Linked DNA regions of Homo sapiens. The protein of the gene in region 1 purifies or fractionates together with the protein of each later gene. This does not show direct contact. Each region holds a gene or a part of one and is shown on either strand. Other genes may lie near its edges.

Region 1 (3,653 bases):
AATAAAGCATGGAAAAATAGACAAAAGGATGAAAAACACAGAAGAGAGTATAGAGATATGAAAGATAGAGCAGGGTCTAACATACATTTAATTGGAATTCTAGAAGGTGAGGAGAGAATGAAGGAGAATCAATATTTTAGAAGAATGGCTGAGAAGTTTCAAAACTGATTAAAGATATCTACCCACAGATTCAGGAATCTTAACGGAATCCCAATCAGGACAAACAATAGGAACCCATCATTAAGACACAGCAGATTGAAGCTAAACAAAATCAAAGACAAAGAGAAAACTTTTACATGCAGCCAGAAGAATAAGACAGGTTACTTATAAAAGAGCTGCAGTTAGACTGGCAACTGACTTTTTAATGATGACACTGGAAGATGGAATGATATATTCAATATACTGAAATGACCACCCAGCAAAAGCACCCTTCAACAATGAAGGCAAAAGCATGACATTTTCAGACAAACAATAACTGAGAGAGTTTACTACCAATAGACCATCATCAAAAGAAATCCCAAAGGATGCATGATCATTTAGGAAAATTACCCCAGATGGAATGTTAGAGGTGTAAGACAGAATGAATAGTGAAGAAAGTGGTAAATCTGTGAGCAGATTAACTAAACATTTGGCTATAAAACAATAATACTTCGAGGCACTTGAAAATATAAACAGACTTGAAATATACAAGAAATGTAGCATATAAGTTGGAGGTGGTGATGATGGTGGTTAGTGGAGTTAAATTATTGTTAATCTTGTCTTGTTTTAAAGGAGAACAGCATCAAGAAAGAAAGAAAAAGACAATTCTTGGCTGTGCAGGACTCTCTTGATCATTGTACAATAACTAGCATTCTTGTCTTCTTTCCACTAAATATAAGTAGCACCCATGTCCTCCCATCACCATGGTTACCAAAAACACCCTCATTAATTTTCAATATGTCCCTGGGGGCAGTGCTGCTTTTGTCAGGAACTGCTTTTGTAAATTCTACAATGCTCAGGCTCCATGATTACAATTCATAGAACAGCAAACACTTAGAAGTCTGGCAACTAAATGATTGTCTTTTTTTTACCTAGAGGTGTTACTTTTAAATTGGAAAGTTTATTCCTGATTATTTTCATTCATTCGTTCATTCAAGAAATATACATTGAATGCCTATTATTATCAGGCAAACTCTTAAGTCAATAGACCCAAATTCGAGTTTTTGTTTGTTTGTTTGTTTGTTTGTTTGAGAGAAGATCTTGCTCTGTCTCACAGGCTGGAGGGCAGTAGTGCAATCCTGACTTACTGCAACCTCCTCCTCCCAGGCTCAAGCGATCCTCCCACCTCAGCCTACCCAGTAGCTGGGGCTACAGGTGCTCACCATCACACCTGGCTAAATTTTTAGTTTATTTTGTAGAGACGAGGTTTTGCCATGTTGCTCAGGCTAGTCTTGAACTCCTGGGCTCAAGCAATCTACCTGCCTTGGCTTCCCAAAGTGCTGGGATTACTGGTGTGAGCTACCGCGCCCAGCCAAATTCAAATTTTACTTCTGCTACTTATTGGCCGAATGAGCCATGTGACCCAGGAGTTTCTCTTTTTGACCCAAGTTTCTCTTGGTGTAAAATGGATTTAATAATAATGCCTAACCTTATCTAACTTACAGAATCACTGTTAAAATTGACTAAGATGCAGGGCATTTAAAAGTGAACAGAAAATTGTATCACATCCACAAAACATAGATAAGCTAAGCACATACTACATGTTAGCTTTTATTATGTGTACTCCTATGGTGGCTAAAATATGCTACATTTATCAGGACCAACTATATGCCGTGTTACTCTAGCTATGGCATGCTACTCGTTGCAGATAAGAAAGCAGAAAGAACAGAAAGGTTAAGTTGCTTACTTAAGGCCAGCCAGCCAGTAAGTGGGAGGAAAGGGCATCTGAACATATATTTGTTTGAAACTCTTGTTTTAACTTATCCACCTTCTGAAGAGTGTGGTTGACTCTCTCTCTGTGTGTGTGTGCGTGCGTGTGTGTATGTAGCATTGATTCATTTATTCAACAGTTATTTACACCTATTATGCACCAGGCTCTGTTTTAAGTTCTGGGGATACAGCAGTGAACAGAACACCAAAATCCCTTCCTTTCTCTCTTCCTTCCCTTTCATTCTCCCTTCTGTTGCAGGCTCCTCTCTCCACCTCTTTTTCCTTTCTCTCCTTTTTCCATCCCTCTATTTCCCTCCACCACTCCCCCTCCTCTTCCCTTCACTCCCTTCTTTCTCTCCTCCCCCCACCCCTCCTCTGCTCCCAGTCGAGACAGGACCCACCAGGCCTGGTGGGAGGGCCATACATTTTGGTACCAGTGCTTGACTAGGCGGATGAGGCTCTTGAGCTTGGTGGGGCGCTGCTTCAGGAAGTCTCTCTGTAGTTCTGTGAAGCAGGTGGAGAACTCGCCCTCTTTCTGCAGGTCGGTGCACTCCTCGATGAGCTTGACATAGATTTGGGGGTTAGGTTTATAGCCGCCAGTCAACTGACCTGTTCGGGCAAAATCTACAACTTAGGTGTCAGCTCTTCTCTGAATTTCCTTCAGTCACTCTGAGGGGACAATCTCCCTGGCCATGGGGTTTGATTGAAAAGTGCAGCAGACCCAGGGCTGGGAAGTCTTGAGGTCCATTCCTGATCCTCCCTCCTGCCCTCTCCACTGCCATCACCCCATCCAAGCCACCACCGTCACTCGCCGGAACTATGGCAGCAACCTCTTTACAGGTTCCCCCACAGCCTGTTCTCAACCTGGCACCTAGAGAATGCTGCTGATCATGCTGCTTCCTGCATCCCATAACATCTGGAATTTTAAAACCCAAAGATCTTATGGTGGCCAATGATGTCTGGTGTGATCTGGTCTCTGGAACCTCTCCCACCTCACCTCCTGTCTTGCTTCCTTTGCCCACTTTCTACTTCTCTGACTTTTTCTCTCTTCCTCAAATGTGCCATGGTCATTGCTGCTTCAGGGCCTCTGCACTTGCCATTCCTCTTCCCAGAACCTCCAGATCTCCCCAAGGCTCACTCCTTCTCGCCACTCAGGCTCAGGGACCCTCCCTCACGACCCTGTCTAAAAAAGCTCCCTAACCCCCATGGCTATCTATTGTTTCACCCTACTTAGTTTTCTTTTCTTTTCTTTTTTAATCACTCCTTATATTCTTTTCTTTTTTCTTTTTTTCGAGATGGAGTCTCACTCTGTTGCCCAGGCTGGAGTGCAATGGCATGATCTTGGCTCATTGCAACCTCCATCTCCTGGGTTCAAGCAATTCTCCTGCCTCAGCCTCCCGAGTAGCTGTGATTACAGGCACACACCACCACGCCCAGCTAATTTTTGTATTTTTAGTAGATGTGAGATTTCACCATGTTGGCCAGGCTGGTCTTGAATTCCTGACTTCAAGTGATCCCCCCACTTTGGCCTCCCAAAGTGCTGAGATTACAGGCGTGAGCCACTGTGACCAGCCTTCTCCCTCTTGTCTTTTACAACCATTGTACTTCAGCCCCCAACACAGGAGATGGCACAAAGGAGAGAATCCAAAACTTTCTCATACCCTGGTGTCTTTGGAGAGTCAGCATTTTTTTTTTCATGGCTGCCCTAGGACTAAAGGAAACTGTGACAGTTCCTTTAATTAAGT
Region 2 (3,653 bases), on another chromosome or scaffold:
AAGAAAAAGGGGAGAAATTAAAAATCATTTTTACAAGTTGATACTTACCTGAAATAGTTACATTCTACAGCTTTTTTTTTTTTTTTGAGACGGAGTTTCACTCTTGTTGCCCAGGCTGGAGTGCAATGGCGTGATCTTGGCTCACTGCAACCTCTGCCTCCTGGGTTCAAGCAATTCTCCTGCCTCAGCCTCCCGAGTAGCTGGGATTACAGGCATGTGCTACCATGCCTGGCTAATTTTGTATTTTTAGTAGAGATGGGGTTTCTCCATGTTGGTCAGGCTGATCTCAAACTCCCAACCTCAGGTGATCCACCCACCTCGGCCTCCCAAAGTGCTGGGATTACAGGCATGAGCCACCACACCCAGCCCAGGCCTTACTTTCAAAACAACTGTTTACCATGCCTCACAAGACCCTTACGTTGACTTCCACTACTCTTTCAACTCTGCCCGCCTCCCTCATCTCCAAAGGATCCATTCAAAGACTTCTACTTCTAGATCTTCACATACTCTTTTCGTTGGTTTGGGAACACTTTTCACTCTAATCCAACCCCTCTGTATGGTGAATGTCCCTTTTTTTTTTTTTGAGACACTGGAGTGCAGTGGCACTATCTCAGCTCACTGCAACCTCTGACTCCCTGGTTCAAGCGATTCTCCTGCCTCAGCCTCCCAAGTAGCTGGGATTACAGGCATGTGCCACCACACCCAGCTAATTTTTGTATTTTAGTAGAGATGGGGTTTCACCATGTTGGCCAGGCTGGTCTTGAATTCCTGACCTCGTGATCCACCCACCTCAGCCTCTCAAAATGCTGGGATTAGAGGCCTGAGCCACCACGCCCAGCTATGAATGCCTATTTTCATCCTTGAGGTTTCAATTTTATATGTCACATTCTCAAATCCTTCTCTGACCTAAGTCTGAGTAGGTACACTGCAATACACTCCCATATGCATGACATGTACTGTATACCATAATGCTATATACTCCCACATACACGATGTTTATTGGGTCATAGACTGCAAGCTTCATGAAAGCAGGACTGTAAGTTTTCTACCTTAAATCTGTGTCTTATAGTATAAGGCTTCTCAACATCAACAACACCGACATTTTACACCAGACAATTTTTTTGTTGTGGGGGCTGTCCTGTGTGCTGTGGAATATTAAGCAGCATCCCTGGCCTCCATTCACTAGATGCCAGTGGCACCCCCTCAGCTATGACACCAAAAATGTCACCAGACATTTTTACACCCCTCTACTCTAGTCCAATTTACCACTACCATGCATTAATGCATAATTTCTAATCGGTATTTTGGCTTCTCTTGTCCCTTTTATACAATCTCTTCTCCATACAGCAACTAAGAGAGATCCTTTGGAAAAAAGAACAAATCACTCTTGTACTCAAAATCTTCCAATGAATTCCCACAAGTCAAAGTCCAAAGTCCTCACATGATATGCCTCCTACAAACCTCTTAATTTTCCTCTAGTTTTCTACTGGCTTATTCTAACCCAGCTGCACTCACTAAGAACATTCCCTCCTAGTCTTTGCTGTTGTCATTGCCTGGAATGTTCTTCCCTCAGATATTCTCTCTCCAAGCACGGCTGCTCAAACATCCTTCCTCACAGAGACATTTCTAACCAATATTCCTTGTTGCTCTCTACTTACTCTATTTTATTTCTCTATTAAAAAAAAATAGGTTTTTACTAGAATACAAATTCTATGAGATTTCTTTTTCTGCTATATCCTCAGTGACACATGTTCAATAAACACTGAGTAAACCTGTATGTAGAAAGCAATCATTAAATATATAATTCATCAATTCAGGTGAACTACTATTCCCTGTTTATTTTAATATTATTCCTTTCCCACCTGACCAGTCATCATTAAAAGCATACACACAGATTTACCAAGTACACCAGAATGTATTTACCACAAAATTTAATGTCATATTACATGATTTAAAACCCCAGAAGAAACATAATGCTCCTGAAGAACACTGCTTTACAAATAAAAAGTTACTTTTTTTTTTTTCTTAAAGACATGTTCTTACTCTGTGGCCCAGGCTGGAGTGCAGTGGTGCCATCATAGCTCACTGTAACACCAAACTCCTGGACTCAAGTGATCCTCCTGCTTCAGTCTTCAAGTAGCTGGAACTACAGGTGTGCACCACCATGCTCAGCTAATCTTTAAAACTTTTTTGTAGCTCTATGATGCCGAGGCTGGTCTTGAACTCCTAGTCTCAAGCAATCCTTCTGCCTCGGCATCCCAAGAATTATAGGTGTAAGCTACTGTGAAGTTACATTTTAAGTACCAACTTAAATTGATTTGTAGTGGCTGCCTAGCTAACAATTTTGTCTCCTGATTAATAATAACTATTTGCTACAGGCCCTAGAGATCATATTACATATTTGTTATCTCTCCTATATAATATATACTTTAGAAAGTTACTAACTATGCAGAAGAAAATTAATATTAAATTATTAACTCATGTTAAACTGAATTGACCACACCTTTAAGAAATTAAAATGTGGCTATTACAGAAGTTAAGAGTTCATATAAAGTTACAGTTTGCTGAGGACTTACGTGCTAGGCACCATAATAGGTGCTTAACAAACATAATTCTCATTTATTTTGACAAAAACTCTTTGCTTGGACCAAACCTTCAGCAAGACTCTTGAGTTCTTTCTGACTAGGAGAACTTTAGGCTCCCTCTCTGTCCTTGTAGAAACCAGGCTGAATGAGAATCCTGCTCAGTCAGTTTACTGAAAACCCCCACACACTTGATATAGGACCACTCTGGATATTTTAGCCTGGCCTGCCATGCTATCAAGTCAGTTTAGCCAGAAACCCCTTATGTTGATGCTTCCTCTTAGTAATAATTTTCCATCCACTGACACTCCCTTCAAGCACTCAGCTCCTTAGTTATAAATTCCACTTATCTTTATGGGACCCCAAGTTGAGTTTAATTTCTTTCTGCCACTGCAAGATTCTATCATAGTGGTCCCTATATCTACTGCCATGCCCCCCCCACCCCCGAAAAAATATCTGCCTTACCATCTTTAACAAGTGTCATCAATAAGCTTTTTTTGTAACAATTTATTTAAGAAAAAAAAAAACTCTATGGGGTCGGGCGCAGTGGCTCACGCCTGTAATCCCAGCACTTTGGGAGGCCGAGGCGGGCAGATCACGAGGTCACGAGATTGAGCTAATACAGTGAAACCCCATCTCTACTAAAAATACAAAAAATTAGCCAGGCATGGTGGCGGGCATCTGTAGTCCCAGCTACTTCGGAGGCTGAGGCAGAAGAATGGTGTGAACCCGGGCAGCTAAGCTTGCAGTGAGCCGAGATCGCGCCACTGCATTCCAGCCTGGGTGACAGTGCGAGACTCTGTCTCAAAAAACAAAAAACTCTATGGTTGGTGTTTTTATCTTTAGTTTCCAATAAAGAAACTGGTGCCTTGAGGGGTTAAGCAAGTTGGATAAGTTCACATAACAGCCAGCTGACCAAACTAGAGAGCTCTTCCTAAAATAAAAACTACCCAGTTTCTTTATGAATGAGGAAGAAGGAAACTAAGAGAATTCCTCCCACCTTCTGATAAACTATAGTCAGCAATCTGCAACCCCAATATACTACAATTTATCATTAAATATTAACTCCTA

The links. The genes of interacting proteins can lie anywhere in the genome.
Region 2: the proteins of OAS1 (region 1) and PPM1B purify together in Homo sapiens (co-immunoprecipitation; one large-scale study listed by IntAct). This does not show direct contact.

What each region holds. Positions count from the first base shown.
Region 1 is NC_000012.12:112,909,915-112,913,567, reverse strand, and holds part of OAS1 (2'-5'-oligoadenylate synthase 1), read right to left. Parts: intron 2,518-3,653; coding exon 2,333-2,517; coding exon of another isoform or gene 2,310-2,332; intron 1-2,309.
Region 2 is NC_000002.12:44,213,833-44,217,485, reverse strand, and holds part of PPM1B (protein phosphatase 1B), read right to left. Parts: intron 1-3,653.